6 separate regions of the Homo sapiens genome follow, and regions 1, 2, 3, 5 and 6 are each linked to region 4. The links come from fine-mapping of genetic effects on gene expression. A gene starts in region 4. Each other region holds a variant in brackets. All regions are shown on one strand. Distances are between the middles of the regions.

The links. PIP is the estimated chance that this variant, and not a neighbour inherited with it, causes the effect.
Region 1: its variant is fine-mapped to the expression of PLXDC1 in whole blood (INTERVAL, PIP above 0.99).
Region 2: its variant is fine-mapped to the expression of PLXDC1 in whole blood (TOPMed, PIP above 0.99).
Region 3: its variant is fine-mapped to the expression of PLXDC1 in whole blood (TOPMed, PIP above 0.99).
Region 5: its variant is fine-mapped to the expression of PLXDC1 in whole blood (TOPMed, PIP above 0.99).
Region 6: its variant is fine-mapped to the expression of PLXDC1 in nasal epithelium (TOPMed, PIP 0.97).

Annotation. Positions count from the first base shown.
Region 1 is chr17:39,089,909-39,094,535 of GRCh38, forward strand. The region is part of intron 7 of PLXDC1 (plexin domain containing 1); the gene reads right to left. It also overlaps the pseudogene RDM1P5. Among named protein-coding and RNA genes, the nearest start is that of PLXDC1, 59 kb to the right of the region's middle. RefSeq lists an enhancer at 3,096-3,165. The variant A/G (reference allele first, on the strand shown) is at 2,621.
Region 2 is chr17:39,106,252-39,111,602 of GRCh38, forward strand. PLXDC1 (plexin domain containing 1) reads right to left here. Exons shown (of 14, transcript NM_020405.5): 3 at 2,997-3,140; 4 at 2,653-2,722; 5 at 1,872-1,994; 6 at 1,156-1,274. LOC124903995 (a long non-coding RNA gene) reads left to right here and starts at 5,004. Exons shown (of 2, transcript XR_007065744.1): 1 at 5,004-5,351. RefSeq lists a silencer at 2,659-2,847. The variant C/A (reference allele first, on the strand shown) is at 2,564.
Region 3 is chr17:39,057,737-39,063,087 of GRCh38, forward strand. It overlaps the pseudogene RDM1P5. Among named protein-coding and RNA genes, the nearest start is that of LINC02079, 33 kb to the left of the region's middle. The variant C/T (reference allele first, on the strand shown) is at 2,787.
Region 4 is chr17:39,149,071-39,154,421 of GRCh38, forward strand. PLXDC1 (plexin domain containing 1) reads right to left here and starts at 2,567. Exons shown (of 14, transcript NM_020405.5): 1 at 2,292-2,567. The coding sequence starts at 2,367. TRC-GCA2-3 (tRNA-Cys (anticodon GCA) 2-3) reads right to left here and starts at 4,735; the gene lies at 4,664-4,735. RefSeq lists enhancers at 4,071-4,220, 4,593-5,099, 5,100-5,351.
Region 5 is chr17:39,112,661-39,118,011 of GRCh38, forward strand. The region is part of intron 2 of PLXDC1 (plexin domain containing 1); the gene reads right to left. LOC124903995 (a long non-coding RNA gene) reads left to right here. Exons shown (of 2, transcript XR_007065744.1): 2 at 341-684. Among named protein-coding and RNA genes, the nearest start is that of PLXDC1, 36 kb to the right of the region's middle. The variant G/A (reference allele first, on the strand shown) is at 3,197.
Region 6 is chr17:39,030,578-39,035,928 of GRCh38, forward strand. It overlaps the pseudogene LRRC37A11P. Among named protein-coding and RNA genes, the nearest start is that of LINC02079, 6.1 kb to the left of the region's middle. The variant A/G (reference allele first, on the strand shown) is at 2,910.

The sequences.
Region 1 (4,627 bases), 60 kb before region 4:
TGCCTCAGCCTCCCGAGTAGCTGGGATTACAGGTGCCCACCACCACACCTGGCTAATATTTTGTATTTTTGGTAGAGAGGGGGTTTCACCATATTGGCCAGGCTGGTCCCAAACTCCTGACCTCAGGTGATATGCCTGCCTGAGACCCCCAAAATGCTGGGATTACAGGTGTGAGCCACCATGCCTGGCCTGTATCTCATTATTTATTTATCCTTAACGTTGGAATTAGTCCCTCCTACTTAACCCAGGACTGCGCCCCCGTGGGTCTGGCACCAAAGCATGCTCTCTTCCCAACACAATGCCCTGCTGCAGGACACTTCAGCCCCTGAAACATTCAAGACCTTGGAATGTCATTCCATGCAGTGAAAAGAAGACTACTCTGGCATTGGTGTCAATAAAGATTCCCTGGAGCTGAGCAGCATCTACATCCCTGAGGCCTGTCTGAAATGCTGGTGCCCCCCACTCCCATGCCACTAGGAGGGTGCACCTGCTACCCACAGGCCAGATGCTGCTCCAGGCCGAGTGGAAAGGGGAAAGCAGATGGGGGCACTGATGAGAGCATGGAGGAAAAGAAGCTCGGCCCCCGGAGGGTGACCACACAAGGAGAGGAGGCTTAGGGTTGCCGCAGCTGGGCAGACAGGCTCTGCCCTTACCGCCTGTGTGACCTTGGACAAGGGACTCAGTGAGCCGCATCCACACATGGGGCTGGTGATGCCATGCAAATGGTGTTGTCCTGAGAATTAAGGGAGACACTCAACGCACAAGGACCCCAGGAGCCCTCGAAGCATGTGAGCCCCTTTTCTCTCTGCCCCGACTGCTTTTTTGCTGTTCTTCTCATGGCTGAGACTCTAGGGCATTTTCAGCCTCTTCTAACCCCTCAAAGTCCACCTTAAGCAATGTTTATAAACTTGAACATGAGGAGGAAGGATGGCACGCATTGCTTTCTCTTTCCTGTCCTTACTCTGTCTTTCTCCCTCTGTCTCTCTCTCTCTAGGACGGCATATTTCTTGTCAGCAAGTCTGATGGGTCCCCCAGTTCCCCGCTGCTGTGGAGAGAGAGGAGGCCCACAGAGGCGGCCTGACCGCGGTACTGTGCTGGCACTCCAGACGCCCTGTTCCCACCCGTCATCCTGCAGGCCTCTCCTCTCTTCTGCTGCCCCCACAGTCCAGGCTGCCTGCTTCTCCTGCTGTGGATGCCACTGCCCCCACCCTAGCTTCCCCTTGTTTCTTCCTGATTACTGTTTCTTGCTTTTGCCACCACTGGAGAATGAGGTCATGGGAGCAGTGGGGGACGGCAGTGCTCAGGTGGTGAATGGACTGGGGACCCTGGAGACTGAGGTGAATTTCCCACGCCCCCTCTGAGGGCTGCTCAGAGAGTACTTATCTTGGAATCCATCTCCCCGCAACACACACCCACTGACTCCCATGGGGAGAGGCAGTGGAGAGGACTTTAGCCTTGGTCTTCCTTTCCTACCAGGAGGATGACAGCTCCAGCCCTGCAGCTCCTTCCTTCGCCCGACTCCTGCACTGGAGCCGGATGGTTTAGAATGAGATCCAGGCCTCCTCCCACGTCTCCCTCCCTTCCTTCCATCCCAGGCAGATCAGGGAACTTGCTCCTCCTCAGGAAAGCAGCTGGACAGAGTGGGTGGGATGAGGAGTCCAGGTGGTCCCCAAGGCGAGCACTGCGCAGGTGTGGGCTTTATGAGAGAGGAGATGAGCTACAGCTGCAGAGACTCAGACATATCAGGTTGAGAGAGCAAGGGAGTTAAGAAGTCAAGTTGGCTGTACACCTGTAATCTCAGCATTTTGGGAGGCCGAGGTAGGTGGATCACTTGAGGTCAGGAGTTTGCAACCAGTCTGGCCAACATGGTGAAACCCCGTCTCTACTAAAAATTTAAAAAATTAGCCAGGCGTGGTGGTGAGCACCTGTAATCCCAGCTACTTGGGAGGCTAAGGCGGGAGAATTGCTTGAACCCGGGAGGTGGAGGCTGCAGTGAGCTGAGACTGCACCACTGCACTCCAGCCTGGGCAACAGAGTGAGACTCTATCTCAAAAAAAAAAAAAAAAAAAAAAAATCAAGTTGTCTTGCCATTCATTCATAAGTGGGGAAACTGAGGTTCAGACAGATTAACCCATAGACAGATACAACTTTGTATAGCACTTTACTTTTTCATTTATTTATTTATTTAGAGACAGGGTCTCGCTCTGTCACCCAGGCTGGAGTGTAATGGCGCAATCACAGTTCACTGCAGCCTTGACCTCCCAGGCTCAGTAATCCTGCCTCAGCCTCCCAAGTAGCTGGTATTACAGGCACACCCCATCATGCCTGGCTAATTTTTGTATTTTTAGTAGAGATGGGTCTCCCTGTACTACCCAGGCTGGTCTCCAACTCCCGGGCTCAAGCAATCTGCCTGCCTCAGCCTCCCAAAGCGCTGAGGTTCTAGACATGAGCCACCACACAGGCCACATCTCTTTACAATTTACCAAGCCTAGCCATTAAGTAGACGGAAAACATCTACTTAAACGAGAAAACTACAAGAGCACAGCGCCACCATGCAGCACATTTGTTGACTCCTTCAGCATGTCGGTGCAGACACCTGCTCTGTGCAGGGGCTGTGCTG[A/G]GTGCAGAGCACTCTGTTAGCTCGCAGCCTTGCAGGTTCCCTGGAGCTGCACCATCTCATTTCCCCTTACAACTTCCTGAGGTGCACAGACAGACATCGCTGCTCTCCCCACTTTACAAAGGAGAAAAGTGAGATCGGAGAGGGGACGTTATTTGCCCAAAGCCACACAGTCTTTGTTTTAAAATCAGAGGCTAGACTTTTAAAAAACCTCAGGGCTGGAAGCCACTGTGGCTCCAGAAAGTCACCAAAGTTGTGAGTGCAGATAAATATTTAACAACTGCCTGGGGGCTGGGGTGCAGGTAGGGGCAGAGGAGTCCTGAATTGCCGTTGTTGCCAATTTCTGTGGTGTAAATACTTCCACGGTAGCTGACTTCCAGCTACCCTTTCAAAAAAGTTACTGAACATGGAGTTAGGAAGAGACATGTTCAGTTGCCTCTCACCCAGCTGCATACATGATCTCCAGCACACCCCTGCTGAGAGCTTCCTGATTTGTGTTTCTAAAAGAGTCAAAGGGAAACATTTACATTTCTTTCTTTTTTGTTTTGTTTTGTTTTGTTCGAGACAGGGTCTCACTCTGTTGCCAGGCTGGAGTGCCGTGGTGCAATCACGGCTCACTGCAGCCTTGGCTTCGTGGGCTCAAGTGATTCTCCCACTTCAGTCCCTGCCCCCAGCTCCACCTCCCCCACCAAAGGCTCATGCCCTGGTAATTTTTTTTTATTCTTTGGTAGAGACAGGGTCTCCCTATGTTGCCCAGGCTGGTCCCAAACTCCTGGCCTCAAGCAATCCTCCCGCCTCCAATTCCCAAAGTGCTGGGGTTACAGGCGCGAGCCACTGCGTCAGGCCACATCTCTTTACAATTTACCGAGCCCAGTTGTTTATTTAAAAATAAAAACATTTATTTAAAAATTACGGGCACAGTGGCTCATGCCTGTAATCCCAGCACTTTGGGAGGTCAAAGTGGGCGGGTCACCTGAAGTCAGGAGTTTGAGACCAGCCTGGCCAACATGGTGAAACCTCATCTCTATAAAAATACAAAAATTAGCCAGGCATGGTGGCACGCGCCTGTAATCCCAGCTACCCGGGTGGCTGAGGTAGGGGAATCGCTGGAACCCGGGAGGCAGAGGCTGCAGTGAGCCGAAATTGCACTATTGCACTCCGGCCTGGGCGACAGAGAAAGACTCCGTCTTAAAATATATATATATATATATAAAATTAAGCCAAAATCCAAAAGATGGAATGACTGTGTGTTTGTCTCCTAAAGAACCCTAAGTCTGAGAGAGGAGGCCCCGTGGCAAGCCTCGTAAATATCAGGCAGTAACTGCCGGGTGTCTACAGAGTCACTGTGGCTCTAAGAGGAGGGAACCCTCCATGGAAAGCTGAGGTGGCGAGGGGTTCACAGAGCCCCGCACACGCATGTGCACACCCCAGCCCTCCAAGACACACACACACCTGCACATGAGCACATACTCATATGCACACACATATGCAACCCTTTGACACAAGAAAGACCCTTTGCCAAGCCCGAGTGGGATCTGACAGAGATTGGAGGATGGGCACCTTTTTGTAATTCACATGCCCAGAGGTGGCACCAAGGCCACCTGTGCTGCAGGTGCCCCTGAGTGATGCCAATGGCCATGAGAAGGTGGCCTGGGCTCTGAGTAAGCCTGGGGGCCTGGGAATATCTAGATGAGGATGGAAAGTTTGAAGCAGACTTTCACACACCATCCCCACTCATTACTCCCAGGGGCCATCTCTCCTTCCCCTTCAGCACCAAAACGCAATGGGATCAAAAATAAACATGAAACTCCAAGTCTCCCATGTCCTGACTTCCAGGGTGCCTGAGGCCATAGGTTCTAGAGTCCAATGTCAACCTTTCTTGCTTCAACTGCCTCATACTTCAAGACTCAGCTCAAATGACGTCCCCTCCTTGAAGACTTCCCCCACTCTCAGGCAAAGTGACTGCCCCCCGACCCGGCCCCACTCTGAGTCTACAACTCCCTGAGCAAT
Region 2 (5,351 bases), 43 kb before region 4:
AATTCTGTTGCTTAACCTGCTAAGTGGCTCTCAAATCTGTCTGTTTTCCATTTCCCCTCATCCTACTCTAAGCTGCTGTCACCCTTCTCCTAAATTACTTCCCAGTATTCCCTCTAAGCCCCCAACAACCTGTTCTCCACTCTGAAGCCAGAGTGACTTTTCTCAAGGGCAAATCTGTGGTTCCCTTGCCCTGTCCTGCCCCTCACTCTCTCCCTTCCAACCATGCTGCCTTCTTCTATTTTTTTTTTAATAGAGGTGTGTGTCTCACTATGTTCTCCAGACTGGTCTTGAACTTCTGGGTTAAAGCAATCTTCCCGCCTCAGTCTCCCAAAGCGCTGGGGTTATGAGCCACCACCCTGGCTCATCATGCTGCCTTCTTTTTTCTTTTTTCTTTTTCTTTCTTTTTTTTTTTTTTTGAGACAGATTCTCACTCTGTTGCCCAGGCTGGAGTGCAGTGGCACGATCTCAGCTCACTGCAACCTCCAACTCCTGGGTTCAAGCGATTCTCCTGCCTCAGCCTCCTGAGTAGCTGAGATTACAGGTGCCTGCCACCACGTCCGGCTAAATTTTTTGTATTTTTAGTAGAGATGGGGTTTCATCATGTTGGCCAGGCTGGTCTCGAACTCCTGAGCTCTGATGATCCACCCACCTCAGCCTCCCAAAGTGCTGGGTTTGCAGGTGTGAGCCACCGCACCTGGCCCATGCTGCCTTCTTTCAGTGCTTTGTGCCAGCCGTGCTCTGTCCTGCCTCAGGACTTTTGCATGTGCTGTGTGCTGTTGTCTCTCCTAGAACATACTTCACTCTCCTCTTTGCTTCCTGAACTCGTATTTATCCTTCAGATTTCAACTCTTTTCCTCAGCAAAGCCTCCCCTGGCCTCTGCCAAGGTTAAGAGGTCTGTGAAAGGCTCAGCTAGCACCAGGCACCTCTACTTGGGAGCGCTTGTCACAGTGGTGATTCTACATTTGTCCCTGTAATTATTGTCCACCTCCGCAACCAGACTTACTGCTCCAAAAGGGTAGGACCCGCAAACATCTTGTTAACTGCTGTATTACCAGCAGCAAGCCCCATGCCTGGCACATTGCAAATTCTCTAAATATTTGCTGAATGAAGAAAGGCTCCAAGACCCAGCTGTCTCTGCAGCTGGGCCCACTCACCTCTTTATAGGCAAAGACAATGCGGCCGTCATGGTGCAGAGCTGCCTGGAAGGTGAAACTGCCCTTGTCTTCCCAGCCTTGGAGATAAACGTGGTCCCACTGAACCACAAAGACTGTCCCTGGGGAGAAGAACAGAGACCCGGCTGGACGGGAGATCATGCAAGGAGCAGGGCCCTACAGAAATGCCAGTCGGAGGGCAGCGGCCACAGGTTGGGTCCCTTCGGGATGATGGGGAAGTTTGCAAAGGTAAGGAGGCAGGAGCTGGGCAGCTCACTAAAGCAGCGCGGCTTCCAAGCAGCAGAGGAGCCAGAAGATCCTGCTTCAGCCCCAGATACTGTACTTGATCATCTCTTTCCCTTTCCTTCTTGTCTATTCTGACTCCTTGAGATAAAAGAAGGAGGAATGTCTGTTCTCCTGGATTCAGACGGGGCTCAAGGGACATCCTGGTGAATGTAAGTAACAATAAAGGCCCCTAACATTTATTTTACCTCGACTAAGAGCCAAGCACTGTCGTTTTGTTATCTCATCAGATTCTTCTGGGTAGCAGGCATTTTTGCCCCTATCTGACAGGTCAGGAAACTGAGCAGAGAAAGGTAGGTGGCTGCTTTGCCGTGGGACTGTGGGACCCTTGCCCTCTCTAGGCCCTGTGCTCCTCTAAAGGACTGGACAAGGGATCCCTGGAGCTGGGTGACTTAAATTCTGAGATCCAGTCTCACCATTGTCAAAGTAAACAACTGTGGAGTTGTCGGAGTAGCCAGGGTTGAAGTTGGCCATCAGGGGCGCCACATACTGAGTAGCTGTGAGCATCCGATGGATCACGTCCCCCATGAAGATGAAGCCTAGGGTGGGAGAGGTGCAGAGGAGTCACCAGAAATGGCCCAGAGGGGCCGCTTTGGGGGCCTTTTCCCCAAGGGCAAGAAGGGCAGCGCAGGCAGAGCTGGAAGTGAGCCTGAGACCTCTGTCGCCCATCCCCATCTGGCGGGCTCTGGGTCTGGTGTGTATGGAGCCAAAGGACCCCAGATAGGAGAAGGTCCTCCCTGTCCCTTCAGCAGGGCACAGACTATAGGGCGAGGGGGCAGGAAGAGGAGAGGACTCACAGCTTTCCCCATCCCTGGGGAAGTGGGATGTGGAACTGAAGTGCAGGGATTAAAGACAGGTGCCTCCTATCAACAGGGAGCCTGGCCCCAGGAGCCCAAGCTCTCAGTGGAGTCTCCCTCTCCCTCTTATTCAGCAACTCCGGGACACAGGGCTGTCCACACTGACTCGTGCTGGCCCGAGGAGACACACACGTGCAGGCACATGAGCAGGTCAGCTAATGCAAGGGAGATGCTCTGACGTCCACTGACCCCCCTCCTGAGAATCAGACTCCTATTAGAGCCAAATGTGCCTTCCTCCCATTTCATATAAC[C/A]CTGTCTCCAGTGAGCCACCCCTGGGAGGGCCCCTGAGTTCGGGCTGAGGTCTCCAGACTCTCCCCGGGGCCCCACGACGTGGCCTTACCTCCAGTTGCTATGGTGATCTGCCGCAGAGGATGCCCGTAGAAAGGGAAATCAAAGGACAAGACCACTCTCTGCAGGGGATGGGAGAAAGTCAGCACGGGCCAAGCTGCAGGCCAGGGGCCTGGGCACCCACACTGCCTCATGCTTGTTTGGACAGAGTGGGGAGCAGGCATGCCCAGGGCCACTGCTGGGCACCCCAACTCTGGCAAAGTCCCATGGGAACCCCTGGAAGGTACCTCCCAGGTCACAGACCTCGGGCCACAGCCATGCCCACTGACCAGGCAGGGTGGTTTGGCCCCCGGCCTCCCAGCACAGGGAAGCATGGCTGGCGACTGGGGCACTCACCGAAGCCTGCCGGTGGGTGTTGGAGAGTATTGTGTGGATCTTCACTTGGCTCCGGTTGGCCTCGGCCACATCTACCCACAGTTCCCGGCTGTGGGGCTCGCTGGGGCCATAGAGACGGGACACATAATAGCTGTGGTTGTCCTCCTGCCGGCACCCAAGATAAAGCCCACAGGAGGTGTGAGTAGTCAGCATGCCAGGACTGACTCTCCGCCCTTCCCCACTCAGATTTCTGGGTACAGGAAGTCACCACCCTCCCAGGGTGCTGGACCTGTGGCCCCAAGGGCTGATTTAGGCCTAGGACCCCCTGGACTCCCCCTTGGCCCCAGACAGCTCACTAGCTGGCCCCTAGTGGTGCCCCAACAGGCCTGGCCACAGCCAAATCCACGCCTGCTGCCCTCATGCTCAGCCCTCCTGTTCCCAGACAAGCCAGGAGGCCGGCAGCCCCTGCATCCCTTCAGACCAGGACCAAGGCTGAGCTTGGCATGGGGCATAAGGGAGGAACAGACAGGATGGCCTCAAACCGGGCCCTTGTTTTCAGGGAGCTCCCAGGCCGAGGGAGAGTCATAGTCCCTGCCCTGGAAGAGTACCCTATTTAATGGAAAAGGAAAATCTGGGCTGGACGCGGTGGCTCGCGCCTGTAATCCCAGCACTTTGGGAGGCCGAGGCGGGCGGATCACGGGAGGTCAGGAGTTCGAGACCAGCCTGGACAAAACAGCGAAACCTCGTCTTTACTAAATATACAAAAATTAGTGTGGCCTGGTGGCACACGCCTGTAATCCCAGCTACTTGGGAGGCTGAGGCACAAGAATCACTTGAACTCGGGAGCCGAGATCGCGCCACTGCACTCCAGCCTGGGCGACAGAGCGAGACTCTGTCTCAAAAGAAGGAGAAAAATCTGGATCTTAGAAGGCACCAGTCTAAAGGAGGAGGCTGCCTCTTGGTCCTGGGGAGTTTCCAGTCTGGAATGGGACTTATATAAACAGAGGAGCAGACACAGACCCTCAAGCAGAGCTAATACAGAACCCAGAGTCCACACAGCATCACCAGGGTGGTGGGAAGGGGAGAGAAGCAGCAAGGATTCCTTCGAGGCATATCTTTGAGCCTTTGCTGTGTGCCTGATGGAGATGAAATAAAGAAGTTAGAATGCTATGGGCTGGGGGTTCATTCTGCAAAGGCTCTCCTGCAGAGGAGCACTTGGGCCAGGGTTCAAAGGAGGCCAGGGAAATGGTTGGCAGAAAGACTTAAGAGCCAGAGAGGGGCGATGTGGAAGCCCTTCCTGGAGCCGACCCAAGAGCACCAGCCGCAGGAGGAATGGAGGCAGGGCAGGCAGGTTCCCTTGGCAGCCACCGCCACAGAGGTGGGGCCGCTGACCTGTGAGGAGCCCTGGGTCATTAATCAGGCTGCCCAGCGGTGGTGGCGGCAGACACAGCAGAGTAAACGACATTCTCCCTGCCAGGCTGCCAGCTGCCCAGCCGGCCCTTGCCCTGGGCGCAGCGTGAGCAGGGACAAGGGGTTCCTGCACTCCTCACCTGCCAGAAGGCACTCTGCTCTTACGATAAGCGACACAATCTGGAGACCTGGGGTTGGGGCAGGCTGGGGGACGATGAGCGGAAGAAGCATGGTTGGTTGGTGTCGGGGGCTATTCCCTCTGCCACTGCCCTCCCTTCCTGCCTCCAGACAGCCCATGCCTCCACCCATCCTCAGCACGGCAGTCAAACCAATCAAAAACACCTTGCTCTGTTCACAGGCTATCCAGGGCTCCCTGAAGACACTGTCCTCGAGACGAAAACCAAAGCTCTTAGGCTGGCATGCAAGATCCCACCATCAGCCAGCCCCAGCCTCTCTCTAGCTCCTTCTCTCTCCTCTCACCACCTTGTGCATCCTTGTGTGCCCACCCCCCAGACCAGACTCCCCTGACAGCCTCAAGCCACCAATGGTCACTCGTGCCACTGCCCACGCTGGTCCTCCTGTCTGGAATGGCCACCCTCGCCTTCTCCCCTTGACAGATTCCTGGTCATTCAACACTCGGCTTAAACTCTGCCTTCTTTTATTGTTGAGACAGAGTCTCGTTCTGTCGCCCAAGCTGGAGTGCCATGGCATGGCCTCGGCTCACTGCAACCTCCGTCTCCCGGGTTCAAGCGATTCTCGTGCCTTAGCCTCCCAAGTAGCTGGGATTACAGGCACACGCCTCCACGCCCAGCAAATTTTTGTATTTTTAGTGGAGACGGGGTTTTACCATGTTGGCCAGGCTGGTCTCAAACTCCTGACCTCAAGTGATCCACCCACCTGGGCCTCCCAAGGTGCTGGGATTACAGGTGTGAGCCACTGCGCCTAGCCAAACCCTGCCTTCTTATC
Region 3 (5,351 bases), 91 kb before region 4:
AGTGTTTTGAATTGCATCCTTCTCGAAGAAGCGTTTGGGGAATATGAAGGCATGGGCGGTTTTGTTTTCTGGGCGTGAGATTTCATGCGCTTATTTGGCGTAGGACCACCCCCACAGCTTTCACTGTTCACAGCATTTTCCCAGTTTGACCTTTTGTATTCAGTCCGGGTCTTCCCAAATGCTGCAGTGGCCCATTCTGGTTTCTATGGCGTCATTAAGTTTTATTCAGCAATGGCTGTCCACGGAGCCCAAAAGGCATGCCACCGGAAGCAGCTTTTTCAGACATCTCCTGTCAAGGTGGCTCCAAATATGGAATTCCTAGCTCCGCTGAAATGAAGTGCTGAATTCAATAATAGATTAGCATTTGTCCAGCACTCTGGTTTACAGAATATTTTCAGATGCATTGCCACACTAATCTTCCAGTTCTCTGGTTTTTTTAGATTAAGAAACTCAAACTCAGGGTGGTTAATTGACTTGCTTAAGGTTCCTGACAAGAATTATGGAAGCTTAAGGTTGAACTCAAACCTACTGATGCTAAACCCCATGTCATTTTATGCTGTCCCTTTTTAAGAAATCTCAGCTTGGGCAACATAGTGAGACCCCATCTCTACAGAAAAAATTTAAAGATCAGGCTGGGCACGGTGGCTCATGCCTGTAATCCCAGCAGTTTGGGAGACTGAGTCGGACGGGTCACTTGAGACCAGGAGTTCGAGAGCAGCCTTGGCAATATGGCAAAACTCTATCTGTACTAAAAATACAAAAACATACAGTTCCCTATTGCGCTGTGCCTCAGTGGCCTCCTGTGTAGGGTAGAGGTAGCAACAGCACCCACCCCATAGATGACGATACAAGTAAATCTCCTAAAATGTGCTTGGAACATAGGAAACACCCAGTAAATGTGAGCTGCCGGCAGCACCACCAGCAGTACCATCCCAGAGTCCAAAAGTCAGTAGACCAGGACCTTTGGTTTTAAGTAATGTTTACCTCTGCCTAATTTTGTTAGTTGTGGCTCCTTCTTCACGGCTAAAGAGGGCTAAGTGCTTGTCTACAGAGGCAGAGGGAAGAGTGAGCACAGCTGGGAGGATTCTGCTCAGTCTGTAATGGGCCTGGGGGAGAAGAGCCCCAGGGAACAGAGAGGGGTGTCAGCAGCTGTAGAGAGGGGATGCTCCATCCGGGCGTGGTGGCTCACACCTATAATCCCAACACTTTGGGAGGCTGAGATGGGAGGATTGCTTGAGCCCAGGAGTTCAAGATCAGCCTAGGCAGAAAAACAAGACCCCATCTCTACAAAAAATAAAATAATTAGCCAGGCATGATGGTTCCCACCTGTAGTCCCAGCTACTTGGAAGGCGGAGGTGGGAGGATCACTTTAGCCCAGGAATTCAAGGCTGCAGTGAGCCATGATTGCATCGCTGAACTGAATCCTGGACAACAGACTGAGACCCTGTCTCTAAAAAAAAAAGAAAGAAAAAAAAAGAGAGAGAAAAGGGAGGCTCTGAGAACGGGAAGGTAGGCCCTACAGGAGGCTGCCCTTTTGGCCTTGAGGAGGGGCTCTTGGAATTGCTTAATGTTCCTTAGGAGAGCAGAGTCAGTGCACAGGTTTGCTGAGAGCAGCATCTTCATCTCTTAATTAAAAATGGGATCTAAGGCCGGGCACAATGGCTCATGCCTGTAATCCCAGCACTTTGGGAGGCTGAGGTGGTCGTATCACTTGAGGCCAGGAGTTCAAGACCAGCCTGGCCAACCTGGAGAAACCCTGTCTCTACTACAAATACAAAAATTGACTGGGTGCAGTGGCTCATGCCTGTAATCCCAGCACTTTGGAAGGCCAAGTAGGGCGGATCACCTGAGGTCGGGAGTTCGAGACCAGCCTGACCAACGTGGAGAAACCCCATCTCTACTAAAAATACAAAATTAGCTGGGCGTGGTGGTGCATGTCTATAATCCCCGCTACTCGGGATGGTGAGGCAGGAGAATCGCTTGAACCCGGGAGGTGGAGGTTGCAGTGAGCCGAGGTCACGCCACTGCACTCCAGCCTGAGCAACAAGAGCGAAACTCCATCTCAAACACACACACACACACACACACAAATACACACAAATTAGCCGTGCATGGTGGCACACACCTGTGGTCCCAGCTACTCAGGAGGCTGAGGCAGGAGAATCGCTTGAACCCAGGAGGCAAAGGCTGCAGTGAGCCGAGATCATGCTACGGCACTCCAGTCTGGGCAACAGAGCAAGACCCTGTCTCAAAACACAAAGAAACAAAACCACACAAACTTTGAGGGGGAGAGACTGAAAAAGGGGAAAGACAAGCTGGAAGGGAAGGTTCTAACCCAAGACTCTGGGAAGGTATGATGAAATTTTATTGGCCCATATTCAGGTGATTTTTTTTTCAGTGCTTTTAGCTTTGTGGAAAACTGTAGGCATAATTTAGCTATCTCTAGGGACCAAATGTAAAAATGTTTTATGAACATCAGAAAAATCATTCCCCACAAAATTTCTCTCTGGATTTCACAGTTGAAGTAAAGATTCTACCCCTCTTCCTTCCTCCCTGCACCTCTGGCCCCATCTTGGCGAAGGAAGTAATCCATTGTCCTCCATCCAAGAAGATAAATTAGATGGAGGCATCGCCTGGTGCTCTGTAAGGCTTGTGAGGAGTACTTCTAATTCTTCATGTGGGAGGGTCGCTAGTGTGAGCAGCGGGATGAGAAGGAGGCAGCAACAACTAGGACATTCTCAAGCTCCTGGGACTGTGCAAATAAATAGATGGTAAGCTCACAGTTT[C/T]GTGAGCCAAGAGCGAGGATCTGAAGTCATCACTAGGCATCTCTTCGAGGATCTCTACAGGCCTGGAGCAGTCTGTCTGTCATAATCCATAATCTGCTTCTATATTAAACTGTGGCCATGTGGTTCTGGCAACACCCTGAGGTACACAGAGAACAACCTCAGATGGGAATCCAAAAATCTGCACTTGGGGTTTTTCTCTACTTACTAGCTGTGTGACCTTGTGCAAGTCACTTAATGGTGCCTGGCACACAGGCGTTTAATGAATGTGGATCAAGTGAATAAATAAGTAAGCCACCTCCCTGAGCCTCAGTTTCCTCATCTGGGAAAGGAAAAACAGTGCTTCTCCAACAGGCTGCGATCATGTAGGTAGAATTGCTTCCTAAATGGTGCATCTCAAACTTTCATGCCCTTCACAGGAGTCACCTAAGGAGCTGCTCAAATGCAGATTCGGACTCAGTAGTTCTGGGGTTGGGGGGCCTGAGTGCTGCATTTCCAGCTAACCCCAGGGAATGCTAATGCTGCCTGGCTGGACCACACTTTATTATTTTATTTATTTATTTATTTATTTTTGTAGAGACAAGGTCTCGCTGTGTTGCTCATGCTGGTTTTGAACTCCTGGCCTCAAGCCATCCTCCCATCTTGGCCTCCCAGAGAGCAGGATTACAGGTATGAGCCACTGTACCTGGCCTGGACCACACTTTATTATACAGATTTACATTTTTTTAAAGCAGGGTCTTGCTCTGTCCCCCAGGCTAGAGGGCAGTAGCGTGATCATGGCTCAATGAAGCTTGGAACTCCTGGGCCCAAGCCTCCCGAGTAGTTCGGACCACAGGGCATGTACCACTGTGCCCAGCTAATTTTTTTTGTTTTGTTTTTGTTTTTGTTTTTGTTTTGTTTTGAGAGAAAATGTCTCCCTGTGTTTCCCAGGCTGGTCTCAAACTCCTGGGCTCAAATAGTCCTCCCACCTCAGCTTCCCAAAGTGGTGGGATTACAGGCATGAGCCACTGTGCCTGGCCCTGGACCAGACTTTAACTAGCAAGGTTCTATATTCTAAAGTGCTTTCCAGGTGCTTGAAATCATTATTTCTTCAGCCAATGGGGTGGGAGGGCTGTGCCAAGGGTAGAGGGGACCAAACATGGCGAGGGAGCTGGGGACACCCACACATGGGGATAAAGGAAAATCTTGAGTTCCTTCAGGGAAATCCTAGCTAGCCCTGAGAAGTAAATCAGCAACTTGGTAAGCAGGAAGGTAATAGTAGTCTAAAACAATAGCTGAGGAAGTTAGAGCCAGGAGATGTTTGGTTCCCCTCTCTACAAACTAAAGATAACATCTTAACGTATGTCCCTGAGTTGTTTTTCAGAAGCCCAGACCCCTCCAAAAGGGATCCGCTGGCATGTAGACCTCAGATAAACGGGTGCTGAGGACTGACTCTGACTATAGTTCGTTGTTCTAAATTTCTTCCTGAGGGACCTGGAGGAGGCCATTGCCCATGAGCCAGAGCTAACATTCTTTTCTGCTGATCCCACATGTCTAGACAAAGCTTCGCCTCCTGAACCAATCGCAAATCAGAAAATCTTTGAACCCACCTTATGACTTGTGGGTCCTGCTTTGAGACGTCCTGCCTTTTTAGGTCAAACCAACGTATAGCTTCCATATATTGATTTATGATTTTACCTGTAACATCTGCTTTCCTGAAATTTACCCCTGCCTTTTAAAATCCTTACCTGTGGCTGGGCACAGCGGCTCATGCCTATAATCCTAGCACTTCGGGAGGCCGAGGTGGGCAGATCACTTGAGGCCAGGAGTTTGAGACCAGCCTGGTCAACATAGTGAAACCCCGTCTCTACTAAAAATACAAAAATTAGCTGCACGTGATGGTGCATGCCTGTAGTCCCAGCTACTCAGGAAGCTGAGGCAGGAGAATCACTTGAACCCAGGAGGCAGAGGTTGCAGTGAGCTGAGATCGCACCACTGCACTCCAGCCTGGGCAACAGAGTGAGTGAGACTCTCTCAAAAAAAAAAAAAACAACAAAAAAACCTTACCTGCAAGCCATCAAGAGTTCATATCTTAAGCATAAGCCACCCAATTCTCCTTGCTTGGAGTCCTGCAAACAAATGCCTTCCTTTCTCTATTGCTGCAAAGTCTCAGTGTGGACATCTGGTGTTATTGCGCCAGGTGAGAAGACCTGGTTTGGTTCTATAACATTCCAATGTGCCCAGGATTGAGGAGATTCCTGGGATGCAGGACTTTGTGTGTTAGAACCAGGAGAGTCCTGGATAGAACAATTTGGTCACCCTATCGGGATAATGAAAGAGAAAGGCATGCTTTGGTCTAAGTTGCTGTGTGACCTGAAAAAGGACCAGGCAGCTGATTGCTCAGGTCCCACTTTAGACCAGTTAGTCTAGTACCTCCTATTTCACAGGGGTGGAAGCCAGCCCAGAGAAGTCCAGTGACTTGTCCACATCACCCAGCTACTCAGGGGCAGGGCTGAGGCCAAGCTCCCACCTTCCCACTCCCCGTCCAGCTCAGCACCTTCTCCATCAGTTCACGTTGTCTTCTCTTAA
Region 4 (5,351 bases):
GGCCATTTTCCTGTCTGTCATCCTGGTCTCCCCTGCTGTCTGACTCTGTCTTTGGGCCACTCATCTCTCTGCTGCTGCTGTTCTAATGATAGATGAGGTTTCAAGGCTCTACCAAACAAGCCTGTCCATCAGGAGCGAGGGGAGATCTCAGCTACTTCCCAAGGCCCCCCACCAGCCCCACAAACCCAGAGCCTTGGGGAAGGATGCTAGCATCTCTTCAGGTCCTGCTCCCAGCTGCCCTTCCACTGGTCACAACAACTCCGCCATCAATCAGGTCAGGCTGCCCCTCCTTAGCAACTCTCCCCCAGAACGTCCTTCTCCTACATCTGGCCTCCCCAGACACCCGCTTCCTCCTCATAGGTCCTCCTGCCTGTGAAATCCCACCTGGCCTGTGAAAAGGGCACCGGACTGGGAGTCAACAGCTGCCGCCTCTGGCTTCTTACAGATTCCTTAAGTCTAACCTCTATCCCTCCTGCTGCAGAAAAAGTGCATTTCTCCTGGCTCAATCTCTGTCAAAGCCAAGAAGACAGGATAGCCTCTACTTAGAGAAGTGATTCAAGTCTCTGCCTGCCCCACTCTTCCTGGTCTCCTCAACCGTCTACTACCCCAACCCTACTCTGAAGGGGCCGCCCTCAGCCAGGCCCGGGTCTGGCCACTATCTCCCAGCCCATCCTTGTTACCTCCCAATTCCCCCTTCCCCAGCCCTCTCCGTGGTTCACACAATCCAGCCAAAGGTTCAGATCCTCCCCTCATAAACTCTGTTACACCCAGAGTTCAGAAGATCACACCAGGTTGAGGATTCAAAGGAGCCCAGAAATTATTCATAACATATCCAACTCTCTCCTGTTTACCTTGATTTTTTTAAAGTATCAGTTACCCATAAAGACCCTAACAAATATGAAAAGGAAAGGCAATTATAAAAGATCCTTCATTATTCCACGCACAAGAGTCAAAGATTTTGCCAACAGCCTCACTTTATAAATGCAAAAATAGGTCCAGAGAGAGAAAGTAACTTGTCTAAAGTCACACAGCAAGTGAGATGGCGGGACTAGAAGCCACGTCTCTGGCCACCCTCTGTGTGGTCTCCCTGAAAATTGGTGGTTCTCACCAGCAGCTTCTCGGTTCGTCAGCTCCACTGCCCTCTGCCCATACTTCCCACTGTCAGCCTCCTTCCCCTCCCACCCCCAACATACTCTTCTTCTCAATAGGGACCCAGGTCTGTCTCAGCTACATGCTGGGACCATTAAAGTCAAGAACATTGCCACTGACACTGTGCCTGGTGCCAGCACACTCCTGAGACACAGCAGGTCAACCACAGCACTCACCTCAACAGCGCCTCCCTCACCCCACCTGAGGGGCACCCATGCCAATGATGCACAGGTATCTATCTTCTTAATCATCTCTGCTGAGGGGCCAGGCTGCAAATTACCCATCTCCCCAACCCCAGAGAAAGTCTAGGTGCTTAGGGGAGAACAGAGACTATGAAAATTATACCATGAGGGATTCCAGGTAGATCTCAGAAAGGACTTCCAGGTGGGAGAGATGAGTTTGGAGAACTGGTAGGGGGGAAGAGGAGTGTGCAGAATGGGACGCCTCCCTCCACCCCCTACCCCAGTGCCCCATCTAGAGCCAGAGTAGCTGAAAGCCAAAGGCTGCCAGGGCAAATGGGAGCAGGTGTGAGGAGGGGGACTCTTGAGGCTGGGGGTGCAGAAGCAGCAAGTTGCTTCTTCCTGGGCCCACTGCCTCTCTACTGACACCAAATAGGCAAGGGAAGGTGACCGAATGGCTGCTGCCTTCCCAGGCAGAGACGCTGTGTCCCCACCATCCCCCTGGCTGCTCCCACCTATCCCTAGCCTGGATCAGCTTTGGGGTCGGGGGTGTGGCAGAGAAGAGGAAAAGAAGGCATGGCTGGGGCAGGGGCCTCCCCAGGCTCCCATCTCATCAGAATTCAGCCTTGCCTGGGGTGATCAGGGGTCCTGATGACTCTCCCGCTGTCCCCTTTCAGAGCCCATGGCCACATAGAGCCCCCTCTCCTAAGGTCCCTCCAGTATCCTTCCAGGAGAGAAGGAGAGGTCCGGGCATCGGTGTCTCCACCGTCACTCACACACCCTATGTGTTTGGGAAAGTGGGGTCCCTATCCACCTGCCCACAGCCCACAGCTCTCCTGGCCTCCTGCGGACAATGCCCCCCTCGCGGACATCGCCAGGCCGTCCACACCTGCCCATGCCCACACCTGACTGCCCGTCCCTCCCCGCCCCCGGCCCACCCGGGCCGGCTCCCGCCAGTCCTACCTGCTCCGGGCTGGGGGCTCAGCGCCCGGGCAGCCTCCCTGAGCACCAGCACCAGGAGCCAGAGCTCGCCTCGCATGGTGGGTGCCCGGACCTGCCCCCGGCCTGCTTGCTGCCCCGGTCCTGACGAGGGAGGGGGCCCTGGCTCAGGCTGCGGCCGCGCGGTCCCCGGGGCTGGCGGAGGGGCGGGCGGCGAGGAGACGGCGGAGCGCGGGGCCGGGCGAGCCGGCAGGAGCGGCGAGAGCGCGAGCGGAGCTGGAGGCTGCGGCCTCCGGGAGCAGGCGGGGAGCTGGGGGGGCCGCTGGGTCGGTGGGGGTGGGGGGGAGCTGGGGCAGGGGGCGGGGCGGGGGGCGCGGCGTCGTTGGGGGCTCTCCCGGCGCCTGCCCTCAGCCCTAACGGAGCGCTCCCCTAGAGCTCTGCAGCCGCTCCCAAGGCAAGGGGTGCAGAGTAGGGGACAGGGCGGGAGCCCCTCGGGCTGAGAGAACCCCTAGAAGCATCAGCCGCCCCGCGCTCCTCACTGAGCTCCTGGCTCCCTTTCCCTCCTCCGTTCCGCCGGGAAAGCTGCAGAGAGAAGGCCCGAGGACTGGACCCCTGGAAGGGACAGGCGCCCCATCCCTGGGTCACGGGCCCCTGACTGTTCCCCGCCCCCAGCTCCTCCAAGCTCTGCGACTTCCTGAGCTGTTCTTCGGAATTCTGTGCGTCTCTGATGCTTTGTCCTCCAGCCCCCACCCCCAGAAATCTCCCCCTGCAGCAAAGACCCCCAGCTTTTCTCCCCAAGAGGGGCCTGAATCCCACCCCCCTTCCATGACTCCACCTTATCCCTCCACCCCCCATTTCCAGCACCGATTTGCCCCCCAAGCCTAGCAGACGTGAGGGTGGAGGGGGCCTGGCTACCCCTTACTCTGCAACAGTCTGGACCCCTCCCCACGAGTAGGTAACCCAGGCCTCCTGCCTCTCTGGGGCCTCCAGGCCTACTCAGGGCCAGACCCAATCAATCTTCAGAGCCAGCCCCAGACGAGGAAATGGCTCACCCCACCTGTCACCACCTTCTGACAGGCTCTGGGGATAGATAATCTTTTTATTTTTTCTTCCAGGACAGAATAAAAATACCCGCAATGTAGGATATTTAATAGACGGCAAGGAATCAGGTCAGGACACGAAGATGCCTCTTCCCTCCCCTGACCTACTTCGTTCTTGTGACGGCAAGGAGCTGGGGCGCTGGAGAGTGGGAGACGGGGTGAGGGGGCATCCTGGCTTCTAGTGGGCTGGGGCCTAGGGACTAGAAAACCGCGGAGAGGAAGGGTGCGAACGCTGAGCGCCATTGGAGAAATTTTCCAGGAGGAGGGATATGGGCGGGGACAGGAGAAGGTACACTGTGGGCTGGAAGAGACGGATTCCGTGGCACTGAGGTTAAAAAAAAAAAAAAGAAAAGAAAAGAAAAAAAAACACCTAAGAAAGGAAACAACTAAAGGCTCTCTAATCTCTTAGAACGCCGGTTCCTCCTTCCGCCGGGCCCAGAGTCCCAGAGACTACCTCCTCCAGCCCTAAACCCAATGTCCCCTTACCGTGGAACAAGGCAAGGCCGGTCTGTAAATTCTTCTTGATGTCTAATTTAAATCCCAACTTGGCGGACTCTCAAACAGAATCAGATAGGCAGCTACCTCCAGCTGCAGCTACTTGCTGCCCTCAAGTGGCCACGTGACGAGCCACAACCCTCTTGTCCTGCGGGTTTCCTCTTTCCCCAGCCTGCCCACCCCCTGTCTCCGACCTCCTGCCTTCCTCGAGGTCAAGGTGAGAAGTCTCGGGACGGATTCCAGCTCCAGCCCCGGCGTCTTTGCACATTCCTCCATCTGGGGTACCTCGTGGTCTGTCTTACAAGAAGAGCTCAGGCTGAAACATAAACTTGTAAATAGTAGAAGCAAATGTGTAAATTTTAACGTAAGCCTCTAGAACTTGAGATCGTAATCACCTGCAGGGTGTGTGTGTGTGTGTGTGTGTGTGTGTGTGTGTGTGTGTGTGTGTATTTTGTTTGTTTTTTGAGACAGGTTCTCGCACGTTGCCTAGGCTGGAGTGCAGTGCTGCGATCATAGCTCACTGCAGCTTCCAACTCCTGGACTCAAGCGATGGGGAGCGTATATGAAAACACAGATTTCTGGACTCCACCCTCAAGTTTCTAATTCATTAGGTCTGGGATGAGGCCCGAGCGTACCCAGGTAATGCTGCTGGTCCCAGGACCACATTTTGAGAGCCACTGCTGTTGAATCCCCAGTTCCTTTCAGTCCCTCACTGCTCCTCGTCTGCCAGTAGGAGTAAAAGCAAACAGCTTAGGAAAAATCGACACCCAGGACAAAAACAGTATCTCGAAAAGGCCAAAGAGGGGGCACCCGGATTTGAACCGGGGACCTCTTGATCTGCAGTCAAATGCTCTACCACTGAGCTATACCCCCTCTGCCGGCAAACCGACCGCACGTAGTCGTTTAGTGGTATTGCTGCGCAGGCGCTGTGTGGCGTTCCCGAAGGGAAGTGGAAGTGGGGTAAGACGTTTACAAGAGATGGAAAAAATACAACTCCCAGAAGAATTACTCACTTGGAAGCAGGGGTTGTTCCCTGAAGCTCTGAGCTGAAGATCCCCACTGGCAGTATAAGAAAATATATTCCTGGGGTGTGGAAGGAGAAGTCTCTCGAAATATTTCACTTCGGGGGCGTCCCACTCTCCTGCCCTGCAGAAGACCCCTTGCCACGTCTCGGAGCTTCTTTCTCCCTCCCACATGCTCACGCGGCTTCTCCCGACCTGTCTTCCCCAGCCCAGCCCTTAGAAACTCAGCCTCCTTCCCGCCAAGAAAGAGCCAGGCTGACCTGGGGGTGCGCTCGCCTCCGCCCTGCCATTGCGAGGTTGAGCCACCCGTACCGTGTTCCAAGGGTCAGCCCGGAGCTCCTCGCCCTCACTCGCATTGCATTCTACCCTGGGTACACACACAGGCTGAGCCACTGGCAGGGGCCAGGACTCCATCCTCACTCGCCTGCGAAAGCAAAAAGGGTGGCAGGGCTCGAGACTCCCTCCCA
Region 5 (5,351 bases), 36 kb before region 4:
GAGCCCCTGACACGCAGGGATGGGCAAGGTCACCTCTGTGCCTATGGCTCAAGGTCCCTCACTTCCTCCATGCTTAGGAAGTGTTTGCTGGAGGTGGGGGTAGGGGGACTGGTGCTTTGCAATGTGTTAAAATTAGGGAAATAAACCTGCCTCCCTAAATCCTGGGCTATCTTATGATCTGTGGGTGAGGGGAAAACGAGTGGCCCACCTTAGCCCAGCCAGCACCAGATAGCCTTTCCATCCTTTTGCATGCTGTAGTGAGTTTCAACTGTGTTACCCAAAACGATATGTTCAAGTGTGAACCTCTGGTACCTATGAATGTGACTTTATTTGGAAATAGTCTTTGCAGATGAAACAAGTCAAGATGAAGGCAGACCGGATTAGGGTGGGCCCTAAATCCAATGACCGGTGTCTTTATGTAAACGAAGAGGGAGATGTGGATACAGAGTCGCAGAGGAGACACAGGGAGGATCCCTGTCACAATGAAGGCAGAGATTAGAGTGACGCTGTTTACAAACCAAGGACACCAAGGATTTCCAGGAGATCCAGAAGCTAGGACAAGACAAGGAAGGCTCCTTTCCCAGGGCCTTGAGAGGGAGCGTGGCCCTGCTGACACCTTAATTTCAGACTTCTGGCCTCCAGAACTGCAAGTGAATAAATTTCTGTTGTTTTCAGCTACCAAAATTGTGGTAATTTGTTCTGGCAGCCCTAGGAAATGAATATCTGTGCCACAGGTGTGTGTTACTGTGGCCCAGTTGGGACAACCTGAAATTGTTTTCCCTGTTCCACATCATCCCCTTGCTTAGGCCATTCTGTGGCTCCCCAGTTGCACTCAGAACAAAGGTTACGCCCCTTCCGCCATTCCCTTCTCTTCTTTACTAATAGAAAATTGATTTTGGATTGAGCACAGTGGTTCATGCCTGTAATCCTAGCACTTTGAGAGGACGAGGCTGGAGGATCACTTGAGGCCAGGAGTTCAAGACCAGCCTGGGCAACATAGTGAGACCCTGTCTCTACAAAAAATACAATAAAATAAAACAATTCACTGGGTATGGTGGTGCATGCCTGTAGTCCCAGCAACTCAGGAGGCTGAGGCAGGAGGATCCCTTAAGCCCAGGAGGTCGAGGCTGCAGGGAGCTGTGATTGAGCCACTGCACTCAGCCTGAGTGACACAGTGAGACTCTGTCTCAAAAAAAAAAAAAGATTGATTCTGTAGCAACCAGCAATGATGTAGCCATCTAATAAACCTCATTCCCTGGATGTCTTAAGGATTACCATGTGACACAGGCTGGCTCATGACATCAGCTGAAGGTTCTAGTGGAACCTTCTGAAAGAGATCAAATTTGACTGCTTGTCCCTCTTATCTTTGCCCTTCTTCTTCCTGCCTGGAATGCAGACATGATGGCTGGAGTTCCAACAGCCATCTTGTGAGTATAAGGACAAGAGCCACACCCTAAGGATGGTGAAGTGGACAACTAGATGGAGACTTGGTCCCTGATGACATGCTAGAGGGCTGCTTCTTAAGTCCCTGGGTTTAGCTCTCTGTTAAACGGAAACACAAATCCTTCCCCACGTGTGGTGGTCTGGCCCCAACTCAGCACCTCCTCCTCTCCCCTGCTCTCTTGTTCTGGGAATCACCACACAGTTGTCTGCCTCAGGACCTTGGTGCCGCCTGTGCCTCAAAATTTCTTCCCTTCCCTGTTCAGGAGCTGACCCTTCCTCACCTATCCAGCCTCAGCTCAGGAGTCACTTCCTCAAGAAAGCCTCTCTGATTCCCTGTTGCATTCCCATCACACCCTGTGCTTCTTTCTCCTGGTGTTTTGCACACTTGTGACAATTTACTTGGATTTTATACACATCTTCATGTCTGCCTTTCCTGTAAGATCGTAAGACCCCAAGAGTAAGGTCAGCCTTTATTTATCGTGTTTAAGCACAGAGTATGTGTTCAATGGAGGATTTGTTGAGCAAAGAATGACCACAAATTATAGCTGCCTGTTTTACAGGTACCACTACATATTCTGAAGTCCAGGATAGGATCATTTTACCAAACAAAGCAGGACAGCTGCAGATGCTAAACAGGTGCTCTCAGGTAAGTCTCAGAGTCAACTGAATACAGCTTCCACCTGGGAACCTGAGCGGGCCAGTGTTTAAGACGGTTGCTTTGAGGCTCGGAGAAAGGTCTGGTTTCAATCAGCCTGCTTCCTGGGCCCCGCACAGCGAGAGCTTTCCCCAAACCTCCGGGCGTCTGAAATGAGTGCCCGGGACAGAAGCCACGCTCTGCAGTTGTGAAGCCCAAACAGATGCTGACGTGTCTCTTGCCGCCTCAGCTAAGACTGCAAAGCGTGAGCTTCCTGGGAATGCATCTTCCTGGCCCGTTGCTCGGAGTTCTCTGCTTCACAGCAAAGACAAGCAGTCTGATCCAAACTAGTGCTGTTCTGCAGAGAAACCAGGCCCTGTGTCACGTGCCTCAGCTCTGACACCTGGATGATCCCTGGACTCATTCTTGGAGTTCCCGATGACCCCTGCAATGGCACCTCTTAACTGACAGAAAACTTCCATCTATTCTGACTCAAGGAAAGTCAGAAATGAAACGAGCTGCTGCCTCTAACTCCTAAGCTGATTCTCTCCAATGAGTCAGCAGATCCCAGGGAAGGCAAGAGCCTCGAAGCCTAACGATGCCCTACTCAGGCCAGCGAGGGTGAGGCCAAGCTCTGCTTCAGGCCTCAGAAGTGCCAAGTACAGCTGGCCTGCCAGGGGGAGGACTGGCTCAAGGGCAATGCCATGCAGAATCTGCTGCAGGTCCCAAACAGGCCCAACAGACTGCCCTCCTGGCACACCTGACTTTTATTACTCCAGGACAGTGAAGCCAGGAGCCATATCTACTCAGCTCTGGCTGAGGGTGGCCACACAGTGATGGGTGAGGCCAAATTGCACCCTGGAGGGAGGGGGCGACTTGCAGGGGGATCACTCCTGGGCAGAGCCAAGCACAAAGCCTGCAGGGGAGCATTTGGGAGCGTGGGAGGAAGGAGAAGGGAAGCTGGCATTTGCTGAGTGGTGATGGGAGAGTGCTGGGCATTTCATATTTGTTACTGCAGGGCAACCCTAGGAGGTGAGCACTAATATTAGTCCCATTTTCTCAGTGGGGAAACTGAGACTAGAAATCATGTAACTAGGCCAGGCATGGTGGCTCATGCCT[G/A]TAATCCCAGCACTTTGGGAGGCTGAGACAGGGCGGATCACCTGATGTCCGGAGTTCAAGACCAGCCTGGCCAACATGGTGAAACCCATCTCTACTAAAAATACAAAAATTAGCTGGGTGTGGTGGCGCATGCCTGTAATCCCAGCTACTGGGGAGGCTGAGGCAGTATATTCAATTGCTTGAATCCAGGAGTGGAGGTTGCTGTGAGCCGAGATTGCGCCACTGCACTCCAGCCTGGGTGACACAGTGAGACTCCGTCTCAAAAAAACAAAAAATAAAAAGAAATAATGTAACTGTATGAAACCAGGTCAGTTCCACTCAAAGACAGTGACCTTTCCTCTATCCACTGTCTCTGAGATCTTTAAGCAACAGCTCTCCGGGAAGGTGACTTAGGCTACCTACCAGTCATTGGTTAAACTCTCAATCAGAAGGACCACTGTCTGGAGGCTGGAGCTCAGGGATGGTGGCACATTCATCTCCGCCCCCAGCACCTCCCTAGCGCAGGGGTTGGCACCTGGCATCTGGTGGGTGTTCAGCATCTGCTTGCCAAATGAGCTGAATCACAAGGATTCTGCAGCCAATGGTGTCAAGACTGTGCTGAGAATGTGCAGTGTGGCTCTGACAAGGACAGCATCCTCCCCCATCTCCAGTGGCAGGTGACACAAAAGCCACTTGTGGAGGAACCAGCTGCCTCCTCTGGGAATCCAAGCCCACAGACAGCATTCCCAAACCTGGGACATCCTGGACACAGGAAGGTGTCTCTGGATTCCTCAATTTCTTCTCTGAGGAAGTAAAGCCAACAAGGCAGATACCTTCGGGGGCAAGGAAGAGAAACCCAGCTTCAACACGGAGGACATGTGTTAGACCAAGCGTCTGAGAGCCTGGCAGCAGGCATGGAACATGGATGATCCTCGTGTCATCAGGACATTGTCCTAAGTGTGACTGCCTCCTGGTCCAAAGAGGGCTGCCTATAGCCACTGAGGCAGCATGCTTCCTTGTCGGGTTCAAAAGGAGAAACCTCGCACCAAGAGTGGAACACAAGATCTTCCCTTCAGTCTGATGTGGCCCCCGATTATTACAAGGGCCAGGGCGTGCCAGATTGGTTAAACCAGTCTACTTCCCCCAGGAACTGGGGATCATGGCTCCGCTAGGAATGGGGAATGGAAGCTGGGTGAGCAAAGGCCTGACATCAGGGTTGACGGGGAATGTGGCTCAATGACCAAGACCAAGCTCTTTCAGTCTTTCTTCTCTGCCACTTTCAGTGTGGGCTTCATTGTAAGGCTAGGCATCTTGTAGTGACGGGATGGCAGACAGTGGCAACTAGCCCTGGCTCATGGAAGCAAGACAGGCACAGCACACCTCTCCCCGACCACTGAATGAACACGTGTGCTTCAAGATGGCAGGGTCAACCTGGGTCCCCTGCCACCTCTGGACTAGGAAGCCCTAGATGCTAAACAGCTTCCACCTAAACCAAACACCAGCTGGGGGGTAGGATTATCATGGAACCCAAGATCCCATTCCTATTGTACAAGGCTGTAAGGTAAAATATATGTTGAAAAGTCAACCGCAATGTCCACTTGCCATCTGAATCCAACCAATGAACCAGTACTCTCAAAAGACAAGAAGCACTTTGGGAGGCTGAGGCAGAAACATCGCTTGAATCCAGGAGTTCAAGACCAGCTTGGGCAACATAGTGAGACCCTCCCCCCAAGTCTACAAAAAAAAAAATGCAAAAATTAGCTGGGCATGGTGGCATGCACCTGTAGTCCCAGCTACTTGTGAGGCTGGGGCAGGAGGATTGCCTGATCCCAAGGGATCAAAGCTGCAGTAAGCCATGATCATGCCACTGCATTCCAGCCTGGGCAACAGAGCAAGACATTGTCACAAAACAAAACCAAGAGACATGCCTTTTACTTTCTGGAAGCAGAGCTGAGTAAAGGGTTTGATTGGCCAGCATCCTCCAATCTGTCCACATGCCCAGGGAGGTGCAACAGTTCTGCCAACCACTCAGGCCTTGTGGAATGAAAAAGAAGAGACTTCAGCTGGGGCAGGGCTGCTCCATTGCCTGTATTGATTGTCTCCATCCAGTTCTTTATGAGGCCAGAGTTTACCCAGGTTCCTCAGGGCTGAGCATCAGTGATGCAATGAAAGCTAT
Region 6 (5,351 bases), 120 kb before region 4:
CTGTGGTCATAGAACCCTCTCGGACCCAGCAGATGGCCCCATCTTCACCTCCAGAGCTCCCTCAGGAAGTGGAACCATCTCTTAACTCAGCAGGGGGTTCCAGCTCAGACTCCAGAGCCCCCTATGGAGGCAGAACCTTCTCCAATCCAGCAGGAGGCCACAGTTCAGACTCCAGAGCCCCCTATGGAGGTAGAACCTTCAAGCCAGCAGCTGGTCCCAGCTCAGCATCCAGAGTCACCTAAGGAGGTTGCAGCTCAACCTCCAGTGCATGAGATGACAATTCCAATAGCAGGCCAGGACCAAGCCCAGATTCCAGTATCACCCAGTGTCACATTTCAACCTTTAGACCTGGGACTTACCGTCACTCCAAAATCCACTATGGAGGCTGAGTATTCTACAACCCCAAGGAAGACTACAGCTCCTCCAAAACACCCTGAGGTGATGCTTCCACCTCCTGACCAGGTTCAGGCTCAGCACACAAACCTAACAGGTCATAGTTCAACCTTTGCACCTGGAACTTACCACAACTCCGCAACCATGTTTTTTTCCTCCAACCATGAAGAACTCAACTCAGCTTCCAGAGACACCTACAGAGGTTGCAGCTCAACCTCCAGCTCATTATGAGGTGACAATTCCAACACCAGGTCAGGATCAAGCTCAGCATTCAACACTGTCCAGTGTCACAGTTCAGCCTTTGGGCCTGGGGCTTACCATCACTCCAGAATCCATGACAGAGGTTGAACTTTCTCCAACCATTCAGGAGACCCCAACTTAGCCTCCTAAGGAAGTTGTACCCCAACCTCCAGCATATCAAGGGGTAACAGTTCCAACACCAGGTCAGGATCAAGCTCAGCATCCAATGTCACCCAGCGTTACAGCTCAACCTTTGGACCTGGGACTTACCATCACTCCAGAACCCACTACAGAGGTTGAACATTCTACACCCCTGAAGAAGATTCCTCCCAAGCACCCTAAAGTGACACTTCCACATCCAGACCAGGTTCAGACTCTCCATTCGAACCTGACTCAAGTCACAGTTCAACCTTTGGATCTGGAACTTACCTTAACTCCAGAATCCACTATGGAGGTTGAACCTTTTCCAACCATGCAGAAGACCCCAACTCAGCCTCCAGAGCTACGTAAGGAGGTTGTAGCTCAACCTCCTGTGTATTATGAGACGTCCATGCCAACACGAGGCCAGGATCAAGCTCAGCATCCAACATCACCCAGAGTCACAGTTCAACCTTTGGATCTGGGGCTTACCATCACTCCAGAATCCATTACAAAGGTTGAACCGTCTACAGCCCTGATGACTACAGCTCCTCCTCCAGAGCACCTTGAGGTGACACTTCCACCGCCAGACAAGGGTCAGGCTCAGCATTCAAACCTGACTCAAGTCACAGTTCAACCTCTGGACCTGGAGCTTACCATAACTATAGAACCTACTATAGATGTTAAACCGTCTCCAACCACGGAGGAGACCTCAACTCAGTCTCCAGACCTGGGGCTTGCCATCACTCCAGAACCCACTACAGAGATTGGATATTCTACAGCCCTGGAGAAGACTATAGCTCCACGTCCAGACCAGGTTCAGACTCAGCATCGAAACCTGACTGAAGTCACAGGTCCACCTACTGAACTAGAACCTACTCAGGATTCACTGGTGCAGTCTGAAAATTACGCCCAAAATAAGGCTTTAACTGCACCAGAGGAACAGAAGGCCTCCACAAGCACCAACATATGTGATCTCTGTACCTGCGGAGATGAGACGCTGTCGTGTATCGATCTCAGCCCAAAGCAGAGGCTCCGCTGAGTGCCTGTGCCAGAGCCCAACACCTACAATGGCACCTTCACCATCTTGTAAGAATCACCTTTCCTCCATTGTCTTCTGTGTCCTGCCTCACATGGCAGCCTTTTCCTGGAGGCCTTCCTGGGCCTTCTTTATCTCCCCAAGCTATACTGACAACTAACTTTCTGCTTTCACCTCTGCCGGTAATCTCTTCTTTCTCGTCGTTCTCCTTTACTATTAGGCCCCTTCTCCAGTCTTTTACTTGTGATTGCTCTTACTTGTTTACTTGTCCATTTTCATTTAGCCCCATCGCATCATTGCTTAACCGCTGCTCTCCTCCCATTTTCGCTTCACCCTCTTCACAGCAGCCTGTCCCTCTCCCCATCTCAGTGATGATGCTCTAAATGGTTAAGAGTTGATTCTAGAGCCAGGCTGCCTGGGTTTGAACCCAGGGCTGTCATTTATTAGCTTGATGACCCTGAGCAAGTTATTCTGCTCTGTGACTTAATTTCCTCATCTTTAAACTGGGGATTATGCTAGTTACCATTTCATAGGATTGTTGTGAAATTTAGGTGAGTGAATATATGAAACACTTCATCAGTGCCTAGCATATGCAGGAGGGTTGGCTGTGAACATGATTACTCAGTCTTTGAGTTATGTCCAGAACTCATCTTTGTCCCTGGCTTTCTATATGTAGCACTCATTTTGTGTCCAACCCAGAGCCAAGTATGCTACTGTCCCTAGAACACGAAAATGGTAGGAGGGAAGAAAGAGAATAGGCATAAAAAGGGAGGTATATATAATTAAGTACTAAAAGATAATGCAGACCATCGGTGCTAGAATTCACCAAAATCTGTGATCTTGAGATTTGGAGGTCAGAGAAAGCTACATGGATAAGCTAAAACTTTACGTGGGGGTTAAAAAGTAGCTATAATTTGTTAAATAGGGGAAAAAATGGGAGTACAATCTAGGCAAAGGCATGGCTACAGATATGATGAGAATTTAGTAGACCAATCTGGCTGCAAAGAATCAGGCGAGGGAGCGATGAAGAAATGATTATGTAAAACCTTGATTATCAGGTATGGGAGTTTAAAAGTTACACAGTGAGATATGGGAAGCC[A/G]TTGAAAGTTTCCAACCAAGAGAGATTAAATGATTAAAACAGGGAGGATTATTTTATTTTTTGCATAATGTTCAAGTGTAGACATGCAAAGGATTATTTTAGAATCCATATGTAGAATGCCCTAGAGGGGAAAGCTTAATTCAGGGAGACAAAATAGAAAGGTCTAGCAAAATCTAGGAGTAAAGTGTGAAGGGGCTAAATCAGATTGGTTGTGATAGGAGTGAAAAGAAAAAAGCCTAGGATGTTTCAACTGAGGGCACTGGGCCAAAGCTTTGGTGTTATCCGGCATAGGGTTTCTTTCTTCTTATTTGTTGATAATAATAAGCTTTTGCCCATTTTTCTGTTGAGGTATTTACCATTTTTGATTTGTAGAAGGAGTTAGTTTAGACACATAAGTGATTTTGGATAAAGTCCTTACATTCAAAGTAATTAACCGGCATTATCTGTCTAAGAGATGGGATGGATAGGAAGTTAAGCTTCCGGGAGATGCCTCATTTGTGCCAGTGGTCCCACATTATTTCTTGATTAATTGTGCAAACTGGGAAGCTGATAGCTCTGGAAATGAGAAAGCAGGTGTTATTCTCTGTTTCTGAATATCCCCCACAAGGTTGCCATGATTCTTTTACTTATCCTGTTCATTCTTTTCCTACCTATTCAAGGATATGAACTGTGTTTCTTCACAGAAATTTCCAAGGAAACTATATTTCTTACATTGGTGAAGATGTATGGAAAGCATACAGTTGGACTGAGAAACTGTGAGTATATTCTCTCCAAATATGACAAAAAACTAACTGCATTGTAAGATCCTTCTTGGTACAGAATTTTGAGGTCGGTACCTCTGAGAAAACATGTTTCCCTTCCATACCCCAAATGAACCTCTGTTGATTGCAATCGTGTGGTAATTTTAAAATTAAATTTGGTAGGCTCTCTTTAAAATAAGAGTCAATTTAAATTTATTTTTATTATGCAAATAATACATGGGTATTTTTTTTTCTTTTTCTTTTTTCTTTTTTTTTTTTTCGGAGACAGGATCTTACTCTGTTCCCCAGGCTGGAATGCAGTGGTGCAATCACTACTCACTGCAGCCTCCACCTCCCAGGCTCAAGTGATCCTCCCATCTCAGCCTCCCAAGTAGCTGGAACCACAGGTGCATGCCACCACTCCCACCTAATTTTTTATTTTTTGTAGAGACAGGGTCTCCCTATGTTGCTTAGGCTGGTCTCAAACTCCTGGGCTCAAGTGATCCTCCCACCTTGGTCTCCCAAAGTGCTGGGATTACAGGCATGAACCACCACTCCCAGCCCATGATTATATTCTTAATGTATAAAAATGAAATAACAGCTATAACAAAAATCTTCCTTGTGTCCTACTCCCTCATCCCTGAGGTAACACTCTGTGTTTAGTATATAACCTTCCAGACTTTTTCCCATTTGCCTACATACATATTTACATAAAGCAAAATAGATTTGTTGTGTGGTTTTAAAAATCTTTTTTCTTTACATAAATGGTAACATCTTGCAACTTGATTCTTTCACTTCATGATGTGTCTTAGATTTCCTTCCTTCCCAGTACTTAGAGGGTTACCCCATTCATTTAAACTCCTGCATAATATTCCATAGTATGGATGTATCATAGTTTATTTAATAGTTCCCCCATTGATGGATGTTTAGATTATGTCTAGTTTTCTTGTTACATGCATTGCTGCAATGAAATCCATGCTTCTTTGTGAACATGGGCAAGTATTTCTGTAGAATAGATATCTAGAAATGGAATTGTTGGAGTGAAGCCTATGTAGATATGAAATTTTAATTGCCGTCAAAAATGTTGTGCCTACTTACACTATCGTCAGCAGAGTATGACAGCATTCATTTCCCCACACCTTTTCACCACTGGCTATTCTCCAACTTTTTGTTGATGTTATGGATGAATAAAAGGTATCCCATCTAAATTTGAATTTTTCTGATTACTTATGAATTTAATGAAATGTTTTTATGTGTTTATTGAACATTTGTGTTTCTTCTCTGAGTTTTCTGTCCTTTGTTCATGATCTCGTTGAATTTTTAAAATCATTTTCACATTGATTTATAGAAGGAATTCGACACATAAATGATTTTGGAAAAAATGCTCACATTCAAAGTAACTGGCTTTTTTTTTTTTTTTTTTTTTTAATTGAGACAGAGTCTCGCTCTGCCGCCCAGGCTGGAGTGCAATGGCGCCATCTTGGCTCACTGCAACTGCCACTGCCCGGGTTCAAGCGATTCTCATGCCTCAGCCTCCCGGGTAGCTGGGACTACAGGTGCGCACCACCATGCCCCGCTAATTTTTTTGTATTTTTAGAGATGGGGTTTCGCCTTGTTGGCCGGGCTGGTCTTGAACTCCTGACCTGAGGTGATCCGCCCACCTCGGCCTCCCAAAGTGCTGGGATTATAGACGTTAGCCGCC